Regions from separate parts of the Homo sapiens genome. Here region 2 is linked to region 1. Evidence: fine-mapped expression QTL. A gene starts in region 1. The other region holds a variant in brackets. All regions are shown on one strand. Distances are between the middles of the regions. Region 1 holds the start of MRPS22 (mitochondrial ribosomal protein S22). Region 2 holds the start of LOC124906290 (a long non-coding RNA gene).

Region 1 (11,779 bases):
AGATACCATAACACATTTATTAGAAGGCTAACATTAAGAGGAATGACTATTTTAAGTGTTGACGAAGATGCTGAGGAAACAATACTCTCATATAATATGTTGATGGAGATGTAAAATGGTACAATTACTTTAGAAAAATGTGGGAGTTTCTTAAAAAGTTAAACACAGTCAACCATTCATTCCCAGATATTTACCCAGGAGAAATGAAAACATATGTGCAAAGACGTGTACACAAGTGTTCATAGGAGCTTTATTTGTTATAACCAAAGACTGGGAAAAACCCAAAAGTCCCTCAACAGATGAAAGGATAACAAGTTGTGGTCCATAAACCACGATAGATACTACTCAGCAGTAGAAAGGAAAGGAACAAACTATTGATACACATGACACCATGAGTGAATCTTAAAATAATTATATTAGGTGCAAAAAGCCAGACAAAAGAGAATATAAACTTGTGGTGCCTTTTATATGAAATTCTAGAAAATGCAAACTATCCAAAGTGAAAGAAAGCAGTGGCTTCCAGGGGAGAGAGTTATTTGGGAACAGCAGGAGGAAGGGATTACCTACCAAGGAGTATGAGGAAGTTTTCAGAGTGATGGATATTTTCATTATCTTGACTGTGGTTATGGTTATATGGCAGACACATACGTCAAAACTTATCAAATTATATGCTTTCAGTGTGTGAAGTTTGTTGTATGCCAATTATACCTGAATAAACCTATTTATTTATTTATATAAAAATATAAACCTATTTATTTTAAAAAACAAAACTCCACTGGGAAATTGTTGAGGTTCGGGATATCTGTATTCTCTTTCCGTATTTTCCACAGGGTTTGTCTCAGGTCTGAGTGTGCAGAAGGTGGTCAACAAATGTTTGATTACTTTCATCCCTACAAGAATTACCAGCATAGAAGGAAACTCACTGAGCAAGGATGTTTACTGGTACAATTCAGCTGATGGGGAAATTGTGATTTGCTAAAGTAGCAAAAGTCACAAGGGGTGAGGGGACTTCGTTTGATCACTCATTTCTATGGACTGCTAGGTCAAGTCAGTTCATTTCAGCCTGGAACGTTTGCATCCCTGGACAGTTTCTAAGGGAGGAGAATGAATGCCACTGAACATTCATAAGGAATAAGATGAGATGGAACAAGAATGATGATGATGAGGATGAGGATGAGAATGATGAAGATGATGATAGTAATAGTGATAATACTATTTACCACTTGATGGCCACTGACTGTGTGCCAGAGCACCATCTGCTTCCTGTCTGTTCACCCTCACCCCAGTCCTATGTGGAAGTTGTTATCATTCCATCTTAAAGAGGAGGAACTAGCAGGTGGTGAGTAAAATGGGCTCATATAGCTAATAAGTTGCGGAGCTAGTATTTGAACCCATGTCTGTCTGATTCCAAAGCCTGTGCTCCTACCATTAAATGTATCCCATTCCCAAGCCAATAAACACATGTGAACACATGTATTTCCACCTGAACACCCATGTAAGGCCACACACACACACACACGCATATACTCAACCACATGTATACAAATGTACCTGCACACACATGGGTACACATACGCACATGCACATATTTGAATACACACATTTGCATGCATACAAAAATGGCCACACACATACACAAATGCATCCACATGTATCCCCTGAACACACACACCTATGCACATACACGCTTGCATGACACATACAGCTGAGCACACACATATGTGGTTGCACATACACAGAGGCACACACTTAGTCCTAAGAACACACATTTTCCCTTTCTGGCTCTGGCTTCCTGCAAACAGCCACCACTACATCCTTTTGCCAGCCTCTCCCAGCCAGGCCCCAAGAATCTTCAAAACACTGAAGTCCTAAGTCTCAAGTGAAATTATGCCCAGGCCCCTGACCTGGGGGAGCTGCATGCAAGTCAGGGCAATCAGATACATCACATTTTCCCATGAAAGAAATTTCTGACAGGCTTATTAACCTTTGAAAATACCAGTTCTCAGTCTGAGGGACTTCCTGAGTCCAGATCAAATTGAAAAATAACCTAGTGACAGACCACCCAGTTCTGAGCTGATGGGAATTACTTTCAACCCAGGCCAGCATGTCCTTTAGACAAAATGTTCCACACCAAACCTGACAGCAGCCAGATCTTGGGAGCAGGGGAGCCAAGTGCCATTTATTACAAAACATATCCATGATCGCTGTGTCATGGGGCCACTGCTCTGGGCCCAAGTCCCTTTGGGGGCAGCTGGGGTGGCAAGTAGCAGCCAGCCTTAGTGCCTTTGACATTTATGTCCCTGTGCTATAGGACAGAGGGTCTGTCTGTCATCACAGACTGATGTAGCCTTGGCCCCTGGCAATCATTTTCTGTTTCAAGTGTTCAGTTTGGTGTAGAATTGTAGTTCAGTGGATGCTATCAGAAGAAAAAGGACAGAGTGTCACGTGGAAAATTGGAGATAAACTGATAACTCCAGGGTTAGAGGAACTGACTCATCCGCCCCCACTGGCTTGTGGTGGAGGACAGTCTCCCTCCTTCTCTCTTTTGGGCCATATTCTGGCTCAGAAGTCAGTCTATGTAATTTCTGGAAGTGTCAATGTTTTTCTTCACCCCATAGAACACATGTAGAACAGAGCTTTTCCACCATAAGAGCTGCCAGGTACCTCAGAGTTCAGCCTTGTCACTGCATGGAATAAATTGGGTGGTCATGCGCAAGACCCATAACTTCAGAGCCTCAGTTTATGCATATAAAAGATGGGAATATCAGTGCCTGCCCTGTCTGCCTCACTAATTTGCCATGAAGACTAACAGGGCTGATGAGAAGACAGTGCACTCTGAGTGAGAGGGAAGGGGCTTGGGCCATCACATCTTCAACCATTCCTACCATTGTTCAAGGTTTTTTTGCTCAGGCAAACCCTCACACAGGCTTCCAGGAATGTCTTCTGATGTTTCCCCTCTTTCTCTGGAATTATCTCCTCTTCTGCACTGCTACTGACTGTCCCACTGCTCAGCAGGTTGCATCCCAGCCATGTGCCCAGCCCCAGCAGATACTTCAAACTGCTCATTCCTATAGCTCCCAACACAACCGTACCTCTTCTCGACCAATGATTTTGCTTTCCAGTGCTCAGAAAAAGGGACAGAGAGGCAGGAAGGCTCTCTGATTCTCTCCCCAAAACGTATCCACTCTAACCATCCTTAACTCCTGGCCTACTGGTGCAAAGGCTCCTTTGCATCTACTACCAATGCCTCCACTTAGAATCTTCATCCCCTGAAGCTTCCTCAGGGATCCACAACATCACTTGTCCCTTCTCGTTACTGGATCTTTGGTTTTTTCCTTGCTACCAGTCCCTTCTCAGCACACAAAGGGGAATTTCGGCCATGGAATTTGTGTCTCTGTAGGAACATGTAAGAGGTTTGGACTTTGAATAGGGGCCAGAAGAATAAAAACTCTGGGTGAAGTCAAAAGTGGGGTGGATGTGGACCTTTTGGGAGGCCTCAAGGATAGGGAATTGAAGACTTACAGAAGTCACATGAGTGTGGTTGCTGGAGACCGCAGGGGTTCTTGCGTTGTCCAGACTGTCACCTTTCTTCCTTGGGCTCTGTTCTTCCTCTCTCCATTCCTCTCCCTGACTTTTATCCCCTAACCCCATCTTGACTTCTAAAAGCTTAGGATAAAATATATCTTTTAAAAAACAGAAGTCCAGACCCTGTTAAATCACTGAGAGTGGGATAAGGCACTCCCCACTGAGGCATCACTATACTTTTGTTTTACAAATAATAGAAAACCATGCTTGCTCCACAGAGCTGGTGAAGATATGACCTAATGAATCCTAACAGTAGCTGCAGCCAGATAGCCTTGGGACTGTCAGTCAGAGGGCCAACCCTCCCCAACCCCCAGTGGTGAACAGAACCCCACCCAGGCCAATCAGCCTCTCTCACCAGGAACTTAGATTGGATGGAAGGCAGGGAGTTGGAACCAAGCCATTAGGACTGCAACCTCCTGGAGAGATCTCTTGAGTTCCTGCCTCTGGGGTTCTTGGAGCTGCCATCTTTCAAGTCCTTCCTGAGGCTTGGCTGTTGAGCTTTTTCTTGAATTCTGTGAGATATTCAGTATCCTTCCAATTACTCCCATTTCAGTTTTACTCAGGAAAGATTTGTTTCTTGCAACCAGAGTACTTCTGAATACCATCCTCAGAAAGTAACTGACTTGGGTGCCATGGCTCATGCCTGCAATTCCAGCACTTTGGTAGGCTGAGGCGGGCAGATCACTTGAGCCCAGGAGTTCAAGACCAGCCTGGACAACACAAAAATTAGCTGGGCATGGTGGTGTGCACCTGTAGTCCTAGCTACTTGGGAGGCTAAGGTGGGAGGATTGCTTGAGCCCAGGAGGCAGAGGTTGCAGTGAGCTGAGATCATGCTACTGCACTCCAGCCATGGTGACAAAGTAAGAAAGACCCTGTCTCAAAAGAAAAAAAAAAACGGAAAAGAAAAAAAGAAAGTAATTGACTTGCCACCACACAACCTTCTCACACCATCTTTATGAAACACCAGACATCAGATCCTGAAAGTACTTTATTCTCAAAGTTTGCAAGATAAGTATTGTCATTATGCCCATTTTGCAGGTGAGGTACTGGGGCTCTGAAAGATGTGGGCATCTGCCTGAGGTTATAGCTTAAACCAGGAATCTTCATTACTCCATATCAGTAAAACTCACTGTACCCCAAGTAAAAGAGGTCATTGAAAGGAAAGTGGGAAGCTCTCTGGCCAAGACACCACCTTTCTCCATCTCTCTCCGTACATATTCTCCCATCTCTGCTTCTGAGGATCTGCTCCATTTTCCTGCCTCTCTCTGCAGAGTGGCTTTTCCCTGCTCACTCATCAGTGAGCACATTGCTGAAAAAGGCTGCTTCAGCCCAAACCCTAAATACTTAGTTATTCACTTCAAGCTTCCACCGTCGACTATTCTATGTCTCATAGTTTGAATTATTGAGAAAAAATCTGCTTGGTGCCTGGTCATCTGGGGTAGGCTGAAGAATGCCCCCATACTTCCTCCCAAGTATAACTGCACTCTAATCCATGGAACTTGTGGATGTTACCTTATATGGAAACATGGTCTTTGCAGATGTGATTAAGTTAAAGATTTTAAAATGGGGATTATCTTGGATTATCAGGGTGGGTCAGTGATTATGCAATCACATACATCCTTATAAGAAGAAAACAGAGGAAGATTTGGCACAAATAGAAGAAGAGAAGCTGATGTGAAGATGGAGGCAGAGATTGAAATGATGCAGCCACAGGCAAAGGAATGTTTACAGTCATCAGAAACTGGAAGAGACAAGGGGCAGATTCTTCTCCAGAGATAGACTCTAAGGGGAGCAGAGCTCCCTTGATTTCAGCTCAGTAATACTGATTTCAGATTTCTCATGCGGAATTGTGAAAGAATACATTTTTGTTATTTTAAACCATAATATTTGTGGTAGTTTGTTATAGCAGCCACAGGAAACTAATGCTAATACAGCAGCCAATGGATTCATTCATCCTGCACTAAGTGTCCAATCAGCTGTGTCCAGGAGGATGTTTACAGGAAAAACATAGCCACTGAGGCCTGCTCCCTCAGCTATGGGAAGAAAGTAGAGGGTTCATTTTCAGAGAAAAGGCATGGGCTGGGAGACACCTGCATTCATCCTGCCACTAGTCTCTGACACCTGCTATCATGTAGGTGTAAGCATTGGGAAGTGCAGGGCAGCAGACTTGCCTAAATAGGCACCAAGCCTAGTGCTCTCCCTTCCCCTCCCAAATAGGGAATGAGTTCATAAACAGCACTGTTAATATTAATGCTAAGTTGGGGGAAAATAGCTGAGGCTGGAAGGTGAGTCTATTCATCCAGCTAAGTCAAACAAGAGTTTACTAACACCCTGTTTTCCCAGGCCTTGGGATAAGTGCTTAGCACAGGCACCAATCTATAGTCTAGAGAAGGATAAGACCTGCACATCCTGGATAGCTGGAAAAAATGTAAAGAATCATTTAATCATTCATTCATTTATTCAACAAAAGTTTGCTGTGCACGTAGATGTACTAGGCTAGGTGATATTGCAATAAAATATGTAGAGTCACTGTGTTCATGGGGTGAGAAAAAGAAATAAGCAGATAAAGAGCAAAATAACAGATTATAAAATGGGCTATAAAGGAAAGGAATAAGTGTTGAGACAGAGAATCAGGTGTATGAATTGGCAGTGGCAGTGGTGGTGGTGGTAATCAGGGCTTGGAGTCAGGAGTTAGATTTAGGGTGCATGTGAGCAGTGTGGATGGAGAAATTTAAGAAGTAGTTGGATTTAAACCTGAGGATGGGGGAGAAGGTTTGGGCAGGAAGTGGAATACATAAATTATGTATTTATTTGAGACAAGAGTCTCACTCTGTCACCCAGGCTAGAGTGTTTGTTTGTTTGTTTATTTGAGATGGAGTCTTGCTTTGTTGCTCAGGCTGGAGTGCAATGGCACGATCTTGGCTCAATGCAACCTTTGCCTCCTCGGTTCAAGCGATTCTCCTGGTACAGGCGCCCGCCACCATGCTTGGCTAATTTTTATATTTTTAGTAGAGACGGGGGTTTCACCATGTTGGCCAGGCTAATCTCGAACTCCTGACCTCAGGTGATCCGCCCGCCTTGGCCTCCCAGACTGCTGGGATTACAGGCGTGAGCCACGGCGCCTGGCCGGAAATTTGTTATTTAGAACGATGGAAACGGGTAGGAAAAAGAGCATATAGGGAAAAAGGTGTAAGTTTTAACTTTATGCATAGGGAAGGACATAAACACCGTCTACTTGTGAATAAGTAGTTTAGAAGAAACAATCTATAAGGGCCCGGAAGACTTCCGGCCCTTTCCGCCTTTAACTAGACTACATTTCCCAGAGTGCTGCAAGAACTGGGTGTGACTCGGAATCCCTCCCAACCACTTCCGGCGCAAGTGGCTTCTGATAATCATGGCGCCCCTCGGAACAACTGTATTGCTGTGGAGCCTCTTGAGGAGTTCTCCGGGCGTGGAACGGGTCTGTTTCCGGGCTCGAATCCAGCCCTGGCACGGTGGCCTGCTCCAACCGCTACCTTGCTCTTTCGAGATGGGGCTGCCACGCCGCCGGTTCAGCTCCGAGGCCGGTAAGTGACCTTCCGGACTTTCGCTGGGGCGTTCTTCTGGGAGACGTAGATCCTGTTTCTGGCAGGCGAAAACCACGCGATAGCCCCCGCGACACGTATCCTAGCGCTTCCTCAGATTCAGCTGTCTTCCTTCTGTACCTGTAGAGTTTGTCATCACCTGCATATCTGTTCATTCGTTCACTCACTCAACTACAGTGCCTGAGTTCCGCTCCGTGCAGAGCACTGTGCTAAGCTCTGTGGGATATGGCAAACTAAGACTGACACAGACATTTCCCTGTGGGAACTCATGTCCATGGGGAATTGGCAGTGCAGTGTGACCCGGGTTGTTATAGGGGACGCACACAGGAGAGGCACTCAAACTAGGTTGGAAGGTCAGGGAAGGGTTCCTGGCAAATATGACCAAAGCTGAGATCTGGTTAGCCATGCTAAGGAGAAAGCAAGAAGCTTCTCAAGCATAGGGGACAGTAGCAGATGTCCAGAAATGAGACTGAGCACAGATATTTGGGAACCCATTTTGGAGGTAGGATTGATAAGGCTTGATTAAGGCTTTGGATATGAGTTTAAAGGGACAAATTAAGATTGTTTCTTAAGTTTTTGATTGGAATAGAGGGTTGTCCCATTTACACCAAGATGAAGAAGATTAATTAATTGTTGGAACCGTTATTTTGGGGGCGGGGGTAGTGCAGGAGTAGATGAGATCAGGAGATGGGAAAGGAGGCGGAATTAAACCTATTTGGGACACATTAAATTTGAGGTGACTTTAAGAGTCAACTGTTTAGTATGGAGTTAAATATAAAGTGAGGAACATCGGAGTAAAAATGGTAACTAAAGGTGAGTGAATGGGTGAGACTGAGGAGAGAGTAGTGCTGAGCACTTGCTGTGTGCTGGATACCCTGAGGAACCCTGGGTGCCAGAGATGAGTATAAGACAAGGTCTGGTCTTCATAGAGCACATCACTTAGTGAGAGACATAGTGTAGGTAAGCAGACCACCTTAACTTTTTTTCTAAATGAGGTTGGAAGCCATTCGTGAATTTTAAGCTTGGGAGTAATCTTGATTACATTTTAAAGAGATTACTCTGGTTGCTCTGTGGAGAATGATCTGTAGTGGGGCCAGAATGGAGAAAGGGAGGCTGATGCAAGAGATGAGGATAGCCTTGACTAGAGTAGTGGCAGTGGGAAATGGAGGATTAAAATGAGATTTATGAAGGCAAACAATCAGTATGTTCTCTGCCAGTGGTGTTTTTTTTTTTGTTTTTTTTTTTTTTTTGTAAAATTGGGATAATCTTCGTGTTTACCTCATGGGTTGTTGTGAGTATTAAATGGGCTGAATGTGTAAAGTACTTAGCTCAGTCAGTATTGGCATGTAGTAAATAGCTAATAAATGGTAGCTCTTATAATTACTGTTATTATTACTACAGCTATTTGATTACTGTTGTTGTTATTACTACTGCTATTGGCTAGATCTGGAGGATCAGGGAGAATTTAGGAATGGCTGTAAGATTTCTGGCCTGTATGGCCTACTGGATGATGCTGAGATAGGGAACAGAAAATGCAGGTTTGAGACAAGGGAAAGTTGATGGGTTCTGACTTGGCAGTATTCAAGTACATGAGAGAGGTTGAGTAATTGGATGGAAGGTGATCTTGGCAGGAGATTCAGATTTTAGAGTTTCTGGCATATAAAGGTAATTGAAGTCGTGGCAGGATAGGAGAAATCATCGAGTAAGAATCTGAGAAGGGAGAAAAGGACATCGTTCAGAATCTGTAGGGATACCAACATTTATAGGAGAAGAAGAGGTGACTAGGAACAAATGGCTTTTTCTTTCTTTTTTGCTAATGGAAATGGAAGTAGAAGTTAGGCAAAGCAATAAGCAAACTGCATGAGGCTGAGCTAAGATTTGATTCTCTGCTTATGTCAAAGGCTCTTCCATGATAACACACGGCCTCTTCAGTATCATGTCCAGTGAACCAAGCCTCTTTCCTAGCTGCAATCTCTTAGCCTAGACTTTCCCTCCCTTTTTTCTCTGCCGTGATGAGGCTCTTGGGACGCTTTCTTTGACCCTGTCATGCCCATCCCTAGTCCAGGCTATGCTTAGTTTCTTCCTCTGCAATCACCCAAGCCCCGTACCTCTCCTGTATACCATACCTCTCACATTATGTCTCCCCACACCTCCCACTTATACCGAGGAGCGCTATGATAAATTGGAAACCATCTAGGATCCAGAACCAGACAAACCTTGGTTTAAATTTTGACTCTATCACTTAATAGCTAGTTGTCTTTGGATAGGCTTCAGCATCCTCATTTATAAAATTGGGTTTATCAGTACCTATTTTGTGAGTGGTTATAAGCATTCCTGAAAATGTGTGTTATACCTGCCATATAGGAGACAGCTCTGTAAGTGGCAGCAACCATTACAGTTATTACATTAATTACTTTATTACTGTTACTTCCTCTAGTAGTCTGTCCTTTTGGCAGAGACCGAGTCTATCTCCTCATCATAATGAGTGCTCAGTAAATCTTAAATGAAGAAATAAATGAATGCATCTCATAGGTATTAGCATTTTGCAGTGCCAAGGTAGACATTGTGCTAATGCTTTTTATTGTTAACTGACTTTTCTATTTAGAGGTCTTGTTAGCTTGTCATTTTTGTCAGCTTCTTATTTACTAAAGTCCATTTTAGCAGAATCTGGTAGCCCAGAGACCAAGAAACCTACATTTATGGATGAGGAAGTTCAAAGCATACTCACGAAAATGACAGGCTTGAACTTGCAGAAGACTTTTAAGCCAGCTATACAAGAACTGAAGCCACCAACCTATAAGCTAATGACTCAGGCACAGTTGGAAGAGGTACGTGAATGCAGGAATATTGTTAGAATACCTTTCTTTAAGGGTTTAAACAACATTTCTAGAGGCCCCTCCAGATGCTTATAGCTATTCTTCCATAGGCACTAGTGAAAGGTAATACCAGGCATAGAACTGAGAAAAGAAATGTGAGTAGGCTGCCAGAGAGGGGCAGGGAGCATGGCTGGAATTGAGCAGACTAGGGCATATGGATCAGGTCTGGGTGTTCAGAGAGTATCCTCTCTCCTCTCAAGGCAGCCTGAGCACCCCTCCTTTTTTCTGCCTGCTCCAGCTTCCTTCCTGGAGAAACATCTACTGTGATCTGCCTTGGGGCTGAAGCTTTGGGGAGATTGTGAGATCCTGCATGGAAACAGCATGTTTTCCAGGCACCAGTGTCCTCAGTACCATGGGTACTGAGTGCTGCGTGGAAAACACTTTGATGTATGAATACGTAAAGCATTAATACTCGTCTTTCTGATTCAAAAGTAATTTATAGTCAGCAAAATATATATATCTCTCTCCAGTAGTAGATTACATGAAGAGTAAAAGTCCATCTTTTCACCTCCTAGAGGTAACTGCTTTTAACAGTATGGCATGAAGCAATGTAGTCAATGGTTAAGAGAATGGGCTTTGAAGTTGGGTTGTCTAGGTTCAAATACCAGTGTTGCAATTTTCTAGCAATTTACTTAACATCTGTATGCCTCTGTTTTTTCTTCTGTAAAATGGAGATGATAACAATTGCACCTAACTCATAAGGTAATTGAGGCCATTAAATCAGCCAAATACATTTAGACTGTTTGAACACTATCTGGCACATAGTAAGCACCCCAAAACTGCATTCTTTTATTCTGTTTCAAGCAGCTTTTGTAGCCTGGCTTTGTCTCAGAGCATGCCTTTGTGGTTTTGATAACGGTTGAGTCTATAGCTGGTGGTCTCAGCCACATCGCAGAGGCAAAGGCCAGGGCTCACAAGTCCAGGTTTGGCTTTTTACTCACTGATTTGTGGCTACACCTTCTTTTCTATGCAGGTTTTTGCATTTTTTATTAGTATGTGCTTTTGTCAGATGATCCTTATATTATGTAACCTTGTGGCTTTCCTTAATAAATATTTTCTTTCATTAGGCTACAAGACAGGCAGTTGAGGCAGCTAAAGTACGATTAAAAATGCCACCAGTTCTGGAAGAGCGAGTACCAATAAATGATGTGTTAGCTGAAGATAAGATTTTGGAAGGAACAGAAACAACCAAATATGTGTTTACTGATATATCATATAGCATACCACACCGGGTGAGTATATGTCTAATCGCAAAATGATCTTTCTTTGAAATACTATGTGGAGAAGGGCTTGAGAGATGATGTGACCTGGCTGTCTCTGATGCGTCCAAACCAGATTTCCTCTGACTGGGTGAGACCCTTCTGGAAGATATACTATATGAGGGATGAGAAATGCAGACCAGCCCCACATCATGGTGTTACCATTTCTCAGCAGATAATAGGCACAGTATTTTCCAGATTCCAGATGTGCTGAGGCAGAACAAGGAGTACACAGATACAGACAGAAACCCATCCCAAACCACAAATGGACAAAAATCTACAAGGCAATGGAAGCAGGAGACTCTTTTCGCCTAAGTTAGATGGATTTCTTTAGCTGAAGCTTTTTGAGAAGATAGAATGTTTCTGTCTTATAAATTCCTTGATGATGCCAAGAAACTCAGGCATCATAAAGGATTTTCGCTTTCCAGAATTTTCAGTAAGAATGACAGATGTTTCTCAGATAATTTTCAGGCAT
Region 2 (12,164 bases), 62 kb before region 1:
TGAGGAGATTTTCTAAAGTGCTTGTTGAATGAATGGATAAATAACTGCCCACCCCCAAAACACACACACACACACACACACACACACACACTGAATGAAACAGGAACATTCCTATTCATCCAGACTTATGTGTAGTAAACTAAAGATGGCCACATCTTTCTAAGTGTTCCAACTGAGAGATGTCTAGTCCTCTGTCCCTTGAATATGAGTTGGCATTAGTGACTTAGAATGCAGCAGAAATGGTATCTTGGGCTTCCAAGCCTAAGTCATGAGAAGTCTTGCTGCCTCTGCCTTGACATCTTGGAACATTCACTCTTGGAACCCAACCATCATGCTGTGAAGAAGCCCCCAGCCAACAGCCTGAGATGAATTCCCAGCCGGCAGCTGACACCAACTTTCCAGCCATGTAAATTATCCTGGAAGTGGATCTTCCAACCCCAACTGAGTTGCCTTAGCTGATGAGCAAAGATGAGCTACCCCCACCAAGCTCTACTTATTTTGCATATTCATAAATGAAATTAATGACAATTGTTGTTTTAAGCCACTACGTTTTGGGTAGTTTGTTATGCAGCACTATATAACTAGAACACCATCCACTCGTGTATGAGTGGGCCAGGGTTATCTGACAGGCCAAGCCCAGGAAAGGCCTGTGTTTGTTCCTCACCTTCCCATTACCTCTGTCTACTCCTTCTAGCCCCTGGTATCCCCTAACCCCACTAACAGGGAGAAATGGACCCTAAACTAGAGAGTGGGTCTCAGAGAGCTTTTATGCACATGTTACCTGAGGTCTCTCAAGCTGCCACTGAGAGTCTGCCCAGATTACATCCCTGAACCACCCCGCAAAGGGGAAGGAGCAGATGAGGCAGCTGTCCAGGCCCCTGAGTATGCCTAGTATAGGTAGGTGACCAGGATGAAAGAGAGGGCAATGCTCTACAAGGGTGGGCGGGGGTATCTGGGGGCACTGATTCTGTCTGGGTCAGAGCCTATGTGAGGGGCTTGTGTGCTTTCCCAAGATCTCACACAGAAATGTGCCTTAAGTATTTATCAGAGACTGGGGTTAAGCTCTCTGTCTTGAAAACACTGGAATCCATTTTTCTTTCTGCATCCATCAGTGACCCTATTTCCCCTGAAGCAGGAGGGAGGATGAGAAGTACTAGTAAGAGTCAGCAGAGAAGAATAAGCTGTGTAGGCTTCTAAACCCCGCTGGCAGGTTTGGCCAGATCTAGTGTGCTAATGTGCACAGCTCCTGGTGGGTCCGCCAGGTGAGGGGCTGAGATGCTTTTGGAACTCTGAGGGTGTGGCTGGGCAGCTAACAAAGAAGCTAATGAACTCCTTGACCATCCTTACACATTGTGGGCTCTAGGGACCAAAGGAATGGCCTTTAAGCAGTCTGGTCTGGGGACAATTTGGAGAAAGCTCTTCCCTGGCTGAAAGGGCATCCTAGAATTTAAAATCGGAGAGTCACTCCGTTCAATCAAACTATCAACTCCAGGATCCTTTCAAAATGTAAATCTTGAAAGAAAAGAAAAATTTTAAAGTTTCCTGATACACAGGATACTAAGGAGTAGAGGTAAGTTGGTTTTGGTCATTAACACTTTAGCATGAGTTTATTTTTTTTTTTCTAGTGAGGGAAAGGGAAGAGCAACAGTGAGAAACAAATATATTTAAGGATGGAGAAAATTACTGGAAGGAGGATAGAAAAGGGAAAGTGGTATCTTAGAAAAAGTATCTTAGAAAAATATTTACCATCAGTCTAAATTTGCTTGCATCTAGCTTTGAGGCAGGAAATACTTTATATTTTTGTCCAAAATCTCTGTGCAGGGACTTCCATTTCTGGAGCAAGGGGCCTTAAATACCCTGAACAACTTTCCAAATGAAAACAATGATCTATCAGACAAAATATTTTAAAAATTTTAATACACGACTGAATTGACAAGAAAGTATAGGGTCACAGAGACTGAAACTGCGTGGAGAGTGTAAACACAGGATGATGGAGCACAGTGCCGGTTTTGTTCCAGGATCTACCATCCCCTGGTGACTTTAAGCCTGCATGTTGATGCTGAGCTGGAATGGGAGAAAATAGGTAAATAATGGGGCCCTGGGGCCTGCCCAAGTGGATTGTCTAATAAAAGACCCCTGCATAATGCTGGGGCCTCAATAGCTACACTTTCAATGTAAAAGTAACTAAGAAATAAATCTGCTGCATAGAAGAGAGCAAGGACAATTTGGTCCCATGTAGAAAAAAGTTAATTCTCCTGAGAATACTTAACCAAAAGTCGATTCTCACATGGATACATGATCCAAATTCATACGTTGTCAGAAATTCTTAAGCAGAAAATTTAATTCAACAGAGTCCCAAGTTGGTGCTTCCCAACAAGTGACTGGCAGAAACAAAAACAAATTATCTTTGCAAAATGGCACGTTCAGCTGAGGCCTCAAAGATTTCCCACAGATGTAAAGTTCCAATGAGGATTTCAGTTCCAGTCAAGAATCATAAAATCACACCAGAAGATAAGGGACCATGAGTGAGAACCAACAGAAACAATAGACTGTAGAATCAGATCTACAAAAACTTCAGATATTAAAATAAACAGACATGAAAAATAACTGTGTGTTCTAAGAAATGAATGTTTAAAAGTATGAACACAGTACAGGACACTTTTTAAAAATGCAGATTTGTAAAAAACCTGGAACTACTAGGAAAATGTATATAACAATTAAAAAATTCAGCAAATGAATTTACAACAGATTAGACACAGCTGAAGAGAAAATTAATAAACTGATAATTCTTAAGAAATTATCCAGTATGCAGGTCAGAGAGATAAAGATAAGAACAAGAAGAAAGTAAGGTTATGACATGAAGCATAGTGTGTGGAGGTCCTTGGAATTCCAGAAGGAGATGTTTATAGAGGGAATGGGGAAGAGGCAGTATTCAAATAAATAATGGCTAACATTTTCCCAGAATTGTTAAAAGACACCAAAACTTGGATGTTAGAAGCATAACAAATCATAAACAAGAAAAGTAGGAATTCAGAACCACATACATTTTGGTGAAACTGCATCAAAGACACATTATTTTTAAGTACATATAAATTTCATTACTCCTTGTATTATATACTTATATTAAAGTATTCTTTTGTAAGTATGGCATATTTCACAATATATTTTTGTTAAAGGCTATGAGTTCCTGAAGAAATGTGGCTAAAGTGAGGTGGCTGGAAGTTATCTCTGAATTCAGCTTTGGAGCTCTGGGAAGCAGTAGGGTGTTTGGGAAGAACTTAAATTTGAAATTAGGAAGACCTAATTTTAAAGCCCGTTCTATTGCTTCTCAGCTATGTGACATTTAGCAAGTTATTTTACCTCTCTTAATATATTTCCTAATTGATAAAATGAGAATCATGTTCACTTTTTGGAGTGGCTGGGATATGGCATAAATTTTAAAGACTTCTTGGGCAGGGGAAACCCTAGCGATGCCTAGCCAAAGTCTCTTTTCTCGAAGGGGAGTGTGAGCCCTGCCATCCCTGCCCCATAGGAGGGCCCACATTCCCCGTTTTTCTTCTCTACCAGGCTAAATTGGACCTTCCCTGGAACTGATAAAGATTATGGCCATGTACATAGCACCTTCTGCGGGCTGGGCACAGTGCTGACCATTGTATGTGTATTTCCTCTCTTTTCCTTGCAAGAGCCTTGCAAGGAAAGAGCTTTAACGGGAGATGCTGAAGGCCAGAGAGGTTAAGCCACTTCCCCCAAATCATACATCTACACATTGTACAAATCACTGATGTCTCTGAGCTTCACATTTACCATCTGATTACAGGGCTCAGAAGACCTTACACACCTCCAGAGTGAATGTAAGATCATGTGAGCTGGTGTGAAAATTCCAGCTCCTGACTAAATGAACCTTCGCTCTGTGTTGTCTACTTTTGAGTTTCTCATTCCCATGTTTCACAGCTCCAGCTGGCTTAGGTAAGAATCCAGCCCCTTCTTTCCTCCTATTCTAGGCCAGGCCATGACTTGGGAGATGCTGGGCTCCCAGAGATGGCTCAGCTGTGTGCCCACCATAGGTAGCAGCCTGGGTGGGGTACACTTCCCACTGCCCCCTTCCTGCCTGGCTCTGCCTTTTGCCACCCTGTAGGCCAATGACCACTGGTCCTAAGGCTCCAGGAAGCTGCCTCTGACCAATGTGAAAATCTGCCCCCAGAAAGCTCCTGCTGTGGCAGCCTGGGAGAAGGCACTCCTGGACTTACACCTGCACCAGGGCTGGCCCTGATGTCAGAAGCCCCAGGCTTCTGTTTCTGCGTGGCACCTTGGTCTCTTGAGCCCTGTCCTTACATGGACACCCAAAATGCCCTTTGAGGGCTTCTCTTGTGGCCTTCTCCCTTGTTTGCAGCTGTTTTCTAGGCTGGATTGGAAAGATGTATTTCTGGATGGACATGAAATGGGCTACTTTAAGACAGTGGGTTTGTCTTTGCAAGAGATAGAAGGGGTATGGCTGGGCGCAGTGGCTCATGCCTGTAATCCCAGCACTTTGGGAGGCTGAGACGGGCAGATCATGAGGTCAGGAGATTGAGACCATCCTGGCTAACACGGTGAAACCCCATCTCTACTAAAAATACAAAAAAATTAGCTGGGTGTGGTGGTGGGCACCTGTAGTCCCAGCTACTCGGGAGGCTAAGGCAGAAGAATGGCGTGAACCTAGAAGGCGGAGCTTGCAGTGAGCCGAGATCGCGCCACTGCTCTCCAGCCTGGGCGACAGAGTGAGACTCCGTTTTGGAAAAAAAAAAAAAAAAAGAGATAGAAGGGATTTGGGGAGGTGAAAGGGAGTTGGGAGCTGATGAGGATTGGGCAGTTGGAAGAAGGCATGGGAGATGAAGGGAATGTGGGGTGGCAAGGAGCCACCTCTCCATAGCGGCTCCAGTGGTGAACCATGGTGGCAGTGTGGGGGTATCTGACTTCTCCCGGGAGCCTGAGATCTTCCATTTCCTGAAACTGGGGGCTACCTCTCATCACAATGGTGCCTCCCCTGCCATGGGGTGGCCCTGCTGATGAAGAGTGCCCAGGGGCTTGACTGGGGTGAGCGTGAGAAGCCATATGCTCCTGGGAATGAGTCCACCCAACTTGGCTCTGTCAGTGGGACAAAGATGACAATAATAGTGACAGCCCTCCTCTGAGCAGTTACTCCAAGCAGAGTGCTATGCTGAGGGCCCCACAGTCCTGGGAGGGATGTGTGGTTGTTATTCCCACCTAGAGTTGAGGACACTGAAGTTAAAGAGGGAAATAAAAATGATCCAAGGTCAACATAAGGAACTGAGTCAGAATTTGAGCTAAAGCCCACACTTTTCATCATACCTCAATCCTACCTTCTAGGTAAGGGGGCTCAAGGACAGCTCGTCATCCAAGACTGCTTTAACTTTAAGAAAAATCAGAAAGACATTCTTTAACATTCAGGAGCAAAGAGTGATCTGTGTTGACTGTATAAAGCTTAGAGAATACCAGAGAGTAGGAAAGTCAAAGAAACAACCCTGCCCCGCCACAGGGGAGCACAGCATGGCATAGTGCAGGCTGGGCTGGGGGCTGAGCCCTGGCCAGGCTGCAGGAGAGGACTGTAGCTACTCTCAGGACTTCCCAATGGGGACCCAGATCTACCAGTGTGAGCTGGTAGTGTAAGAAAACACATCAGACGGTCCAGGCACTCAGACATAGTGTTGGAGCTTGGGCCCGTTGCTTGTGCTGCAGAGGAAGGCCATTGGTTTGAGTAAACTTGTGGTCAGGTAACACTTCCTGGAGAGAGGTGTGGTGGGGGGGGTGGTTGTCAGGCTAGTAAGGAAGAAAGGGAAGAAATGTCTGGCAGCGACATCAAGAACCTCTGAAACAGTGTAGGGGAGTGTCTGTGAATTTACTGGGCCCCACTGGGTGAGGATATAACTGAGAGAAGGGCAGGCAGATCTGGAGACATCTTCCAACAGAACAAGAGGGACACCAAGTGACTGCATGGACTTGGTGAGCAGAGAAGTGGAAATGTGCAGATGTGGTAGCAGGGAGTCACAGTGTGGCCAGGGGCCAATGGTCAAAGGCCAGGCAAGGGACATCTGGGCTGACTGGAGGGAGAGGCAGTTGCCTCTGCCTCTAATGCCTGGAACTTCCATCTCATAGGGGACAAAAAAAAGGAAGAGAAAGGGAAGGAGTGTTAGATTGACCTAGGTCAATCCCTCTAATGCCTGGAACTTCCATCTCATAGGGGACAAAAAAAGGAAGAGAAAGGGAAGGAGTGTTAGATTGACCTAAGTTGACCAAGAATTGATTGAGAAAGAAAGAAAGAGGCTGGATCTCCTGCAAAGCGGCCCAAGGGCTTCCAGCCATGAATGGACCCAGATTCAAGTGCAAAGCTATGCTGGGAAATAAAGAAAGGCACAGCTTTGTCTACTGAGGTCTTGTGTGAAAATCCACACCATCCCCTGCAGCGTGTTTAGTTCTGCTTCTCCAAGGTAGGTCTCCTCCCGTTTTAAGCTGGAGAGCTAAAGCACAGCAGAGTGAAGTGGCTCACCCAAGCCCACAACAAATGGCTGGCATTTGAGCTCACATCTGTCTGACTCCAAAATCCATATCCCCTTGGTCTCATTGTCTGAAGCTTACTGCCTGGGGATCCTGGGACAACATTTCAGCTGCATTCCCAGCAAACAGATCCATGAGCCCAGAGAAGCACCCCAGCCATGCCTGAGACTTGGTTCCCAGCCACTCAGCACCACCTCCTATGGACAGAGCTGGAAAACTGGGCCACAGGAAGCAAGACTGCATGGCTCTCTCCTCTCCTTCCAGTATGGCATTGAGCACTGATTAAAAAGATAATCTGGAGGCTGCTCTAGGGCCAGGCGCCATGCACAAAACACCAGAATGATTTGTCATCTGAAAAGCTAAAAACATCTTGATGGGTGGAGAAATCTTGATGAGTCGATCATGGAAGATTATGCAAATCCCTCTGCCTTTGGTGCAGACTTTTCCAGCCAAAAGATACCACCTCCAGATGTGGTACCCTCTAAAAATAGCAGGTGGAGTCATCTCCCCTGGCTAATTGTTCTAAGTGGTCCCTCAGTGCCATCTGGAAGTGGATCTCCTCAGTGTACCAGGACATCGCCCCAATTATCTATGCAACGGCTCCTCAATGCTGGCCTTACAACAGAGG[C/G]GGCAGCTGTCTCCGCTTATTACACCTCCCCGCCCCCTGCCATGGCCGGCACTGACTCTGCCTCTGACGCTGAGGATACGCACTGCACACGCCCTGCCAGATGCCAAAGGAAGCCATTCTTCTGGAAGAAGACTTTCTCCTGAAAGCCTCCTGGAGGCAAAGTTCTGGCAGAACGAGGCAATTTCCCTCCCTGCAGGCGGAAGGAAGGCAATTAGAGCGGGTAAGGATGGGGGATGCTTTCTCTTTTCTTCACTGCTGGCGAAATATGGGCCAGGTCACGCCACTGGCAGATGCTGCTGGCTGTGAGTGTGCAGCATCGACTCCAGATGGGTTTCTTGCCAGCATCTCTGGCAACCAGGGCAGGAGAGGTGCATGTGCCTGTTCTTCCCAGGGGCTGTGGGTGCCACAGGGCAATGCCTATAGCAGGCAGGTCTGGGACAGCTCTCAGATGTGTGCCTGGACCCAGGTAGTCTGAGATCTTCGCCAGGGCCTCTGACCACCTTGGCCTCTGAAGCAATTAACTGGTTTCCCTGCTCTGTTCACTGGTCAGTTCTGAGTAGCATGAGATGGCAGAATTCTCAGAGGTCACCTGGCTCATGAGAAAGTGCCAGGAGGGCATGTGAGTGCTTGGAAAGGTCCTCCCCAGAGGGAGAAGAACCAGGTCAAAGACTTTGTGCAGCATGGAGGAGAAGAAGGAAGGGAAGAGAGGAAGTACTGCCTGATGTGTGGCCGGTTAGCCTTGTGCCTGCCCAGCCCTGCCTTGAGGAGATGATGGAGGGAGGGGCAGAATGTCTTCCAGGGAAGCAGGGGATGCAGACTGCTAAGAAGATGCACAAGTCTGTCAGTGTACCAAGTTGTTGTTCCAATCGTGTCTGTAGGGATCTTTAATCAGAAATAACTTCATTGCAATTTCAGGAGCTAGGGCTGAGAGAGGGGAAATGATGCAGACACTGCCACCCAGCAAGTGAGAGGAAGGACTGAACATGGACAGAAGGGCTTGAGACATTGAGCCTTGGCTGCTTTCACCCATCCCTTCAATTGCTGCCCTCTTTTCTAATGGCCTGAGTCTCCAAATGGAGCCAAGCTGGGGGCACCCTGGCCAGGAGATGTGGCCTGCTGTGCCCCTGAGAAGAGCTGTCCCAGGCACACAGAGACAACATTTGGAAGTGGAAAATGCCTCTGGAGCAGTCAGAGTGTTGGGAAGTCTCATCCCATTCTCCGTTTCAGGAACCTTCCCTCAGCAACAGCAGAGCAGAAGGGAACTCAGTTCAGCATAACTCGGCAAGTATTCCCGAGCAGCATGCTTGGGCTGGGCAGGGGAGACTGTCACAGCCAGAGTGGGCAGTGCTGTGACAGGAGGCTCCCTGTGCAGTTCCACTTTGTCTCTGTGACTTCGCACAGGTTGTTCCCTTGCCTGGAATGTCCTCCCCCAACCTTTTCTTCCTGGAAAACTTCTATTCAGCAAAACTCAGGTTAAATTTCACCTCCTCCAAGAAGGCTTTTTCAACTCTCTATGCTGTGCTCTCAGAGCCCCCTCCTCAACACACACACACACACACACACACACACACACACACACACACACACACACACACACACACACAGCTTTCCTCTACCAGGACACTATCTGCTTCTTGACTAGACTGCAAACTCTTTGAAGTGAGTGATCATTTAACCAGCATGATGTTTGTCACATAGTAGATACTTCGTCAATGTTTAGGAGCCAAGGAGAGAAACCACAGTGAACAGCCACACTGTACTTTCCTCACTGTGATCAGCACAGTCTTGAACTGTGGCGTAAGGGCTTCCCTGTGATCCAAGGAGGTGCTTCCTGCTGGTGAAGGAGGAGTTGGGCCCGGGGCTGCAGCCACCTGGGCGAGAAACCACTGGGAACCTGCTCTGTGCCAGGCCCTGCCTGGGCTTTGGGGGTGGGAGTAAGACACAGTCCCTGTCCTGAGGACCTGCAGTCTGGTGGAGTGGACAGGAGCTGGGTTGACATAGGATCTGCCAGGCAGAGGGTGCTGATTGTCATAGACAGCTTGGATGTCAGGGGAGCCTGAGGTGGAGAGTGGTGGTGGCTATTGAGACCATTCTCCAGAGAGGACGGGGTGCAGGTAGAGTTTCAACAGGTTGATGGAAGGGGATTCCAAGTGGAGGGGGGACCAAGGACAATGACAGAGAGACGGGAGCCTGCAGAGCAGTTGAGTATCAGTGAAGTATGGGAGCTCAGCTATGGCATCTTGGAGCTAGAGGGAGAGAAAGATGAGGGGTGAGCCTGGAGCCTACAGCTGCCAGTGCTGGAGGGCCCCTTGCATCAAAGCCCTTTCCTGTGGAGGATAACGGGGGCCTTGAGACCAGGATGCCTGCCAGGAGACTGGGCCAGATTGGAGGGCTTTGAGTGTACTGATACAGATTGCTTAAGCCTGACCCAGTGGGCAGCAGACATCTTCACACAGGGGGTACAGGCTGGACCAGCATGAAGGCAGGATCTGTGGGGCATCTGCACTACCACGTGAAGTTTAGCAGGCCTCTGCACCCTGCCTGTCTCTGCACCTCTCCTGCCATTATGCCTTGATTCAGGCCTTGCTCCTTTGAGTAAAGACACTGCCTCCTCTTAGGATGCCCACACTCCCAGAAAGGGTAGCACGTTAGGCCTCAGATACCCCAGCATGGGCCAGTGGAAATGGACTGGAGAGACTCAAGCCAGCACGAGGGTACTTGGAGCCTGGGGAATGGGGGGTGGGGCCAGGCAGGAGGACACCAATGCCAGCATCACCCTAAGGGAAGCCTGGGGTGATCTCACAGCCTTGCCTGAGATGTGGGACAGTCTGACAGGCAGCTGGGCCAGCGGCTCCTCCCTCAGCCTACAGATGGATAGGAACTGGCCATAGCTCAGCACTAGCTTCTGTGAGTAATCAGACTGCATGACTTTTATTCTTGGATAGCCTCTGCTGCCGAAAAGGAATATGGTATGAACTTTATATACTGATGTGGAATATTCCCATGAAATATTAAATAAAAAAAGTGAGTTGGCCAGGCGCGGTGGCTCACGCCTGTAATCCCAGCACTTTGGGAGGCCGAGGCGGGCAGGTCATGAGGTCAGGAGTTCGAGACCAGCCTGGCCAACATGGTGAAACCCCGTCTCTAGTAAAAATACAAAAAATTAGCTGGGTGTAGTGGCGGGCGCCTGTAATCCCAGCTACTTGGGAGGCTGAGGCAGGAGAATCGCTTAACCTGGGAGGTGGAGGTTGCAGTGAGCTGAGATTGCACCACTGTACTCCAGCCCTGGCAACAGAGTGAGACTCCGTCTCAAAAAAAAAAAAAAAAAAAAAAAAAAAAAGCGAGTCACAGCACAATATATGTAATATTGAACATTTCTTTAAAAATGAAAATCTGTCCAGTTGCTTTGACTCATGTCTGTAATCCCAGCACTTTGGGAGGCCGAGGTGGAAGGATTGCTTGAAGCCAGGAGTTCAAGACCAGTCTGGGCAACAAAGTGAGACCCCCCGTCTCTACAAAAATTAATAATAAAAGAAAGTTAGATGGGTGCAGTGGCATGTGCCTATAGTCTCAGCTACTCATGAGGCTGAGGTAGGAGGATTGCTTGAGCCCAGGAGTCCAGAAGGTCAAGGCTGCAGTGAGCTATGATCTTGCCACTACACTCCAGCCCTGGCAACAGAGTGAGACCCTGCCTCTAAAACAAAACAAAACAAAAATCTAGTCTAGAAGTGCTTGTAGGTGTTTGTGAGTACATAGAAAAGCTCTGGATGGAGACTTGGCCGTTTTACTATAGTGGTTACCTCTGGGGAGGTGACTGGCATTGTCGAGGGGACATGCATATCTTATTATGTATGCTTCTGCACTATGAAGTTTACATTAATTTAAAGTAATGTTGGTTAACACCCTGAGGACTAAAACATGCTCATCACACCCTCCTCGGGACCTCTGCTCTCACTGATATCTCAGCACATCTAGCTGACAGTGCCTGTCCACATGAGCTGGGCCCCAAGTCCAGCTTCCTCACTTACCCGTTGGGGCACACCTGGGCAGGGCCCCTCCCTGAACTCTGCTTTCCCTGCCTGAAAATGGGAGCAATGGTGATAACAACCTCTCCTCACCAGCTCATCTTGGACGTAGAGGTCATGTACAGGCTTTGTGGATGACCAAAGATCCAAGTGCTTCTGTGTGGCTGCCAAGGACAGTGCAGGCACAAGAGTCCTTCCCACAATGAGGACTCAGGCAGAGCAGGTGGCCCCTCAGGAGGAATCACAGCTGCTGCCCACAGGGGCTGCTCTGTTGCTTCTCCACCATGGCAGAGGCTAATGGGGGCCCTGAGGCTTTGGGCTCAACCCGACTAATCCCTGTGTGGCTGCTTTCTAACTGTGACATGCTGGGCCCCACCCATCCTCTCTCCTCTTTGTAAAAAGGAGAAATGAATACCTACCTTGAAAGAGGACTCTAAGGGTTATACAAGATACTACGTGTGCACATGCGGAGCACACAGTGGCACGGATACATGGTGTGCACACCTCCCTCCCCGCTGATACCTGGGGGAGAGCCCATTCCACATAGTGTCTCCAGCAGCCCAGAGTCCAAGGCGGCCTCCCCAGCATGCCCACCAGCCATCCACCATGGGTTTTGGGGGCTCACCCTAGCATATTGTTCTCTCACACTACCCTCTGTCCCACTGCTCTGGTGTAGAATGGAACTCACAGACCTTCACCCCACTCCTGTGCTCCCGAGGGGCACACCTGTGGCATAAATGGGAGGAGTGCCCGGGGTACAGGTGTGGCCATGGCAGTGCCGGGAACTGTGGATCTCACTCAGGAAGACATATGCAGACATCACCTGAAGTTCCCAGCAGGACAGGGAGTGGCACAGGCAGCTCCATGCAGTGTAGACGGCAGCACCTGTACTAGACACCTGGGTCACACCTGACTCTTGCTCTACTCCACCCAACTGTGTTGCCTCCAGAAGGTGCTTG

Evidence for each region. PIP is the estimated chance that this variant, and not a neighbour inherited with it, causes the effect.
Region 2: its variant is fine-mapped to the expression of MRPS22 in fibroblasts (GTEx, PIP above 0.99). The same link has a PIP of 0.9 or more in hippocampus, spinal cord and substantia nigra.

The regions. Positions count from the first base shown.
Region 1 is chr3:139,337,048-139,348,826 of GRCh38, forward strand. It overlaps MRPS22 (mitochondrial ribosomal protein S22), which reads left to right and starts at 6,973. Exons shown (of 8, transcript NM_020191.4): 1 at 6,973-7,151; 2 at 9,831-9,997; 3 at 11,113-11,277. The coding sequence starts at 6,980. It overlaps LOC124909439, which reads right to left and starts at 3,826. Exons shown (of 2, transcript XM_047449421.1): 1 at 3,523-3,826. The coding sequence starts at 3,651. RefSeq lists enhancers at 7,031-7,120, 7,080-7,374, 7,351-7,450, 7,461-7,580.
Region 2 is chr3:139,274,436-139,286,599 of GRCh38, forward strand. It overlaps LOC124906290 (a long non-coding RNA gene), which reads left to right and starts at 7,168. Exons shown (of 2, transcript XR_007096115.1): 1 at 7,168-7,400; 2 at 8,096-12,164. RefSeq lists a silencer at 8,929-9,120. The variant C/G (reference allele first, on the strand shown) is at 7,181.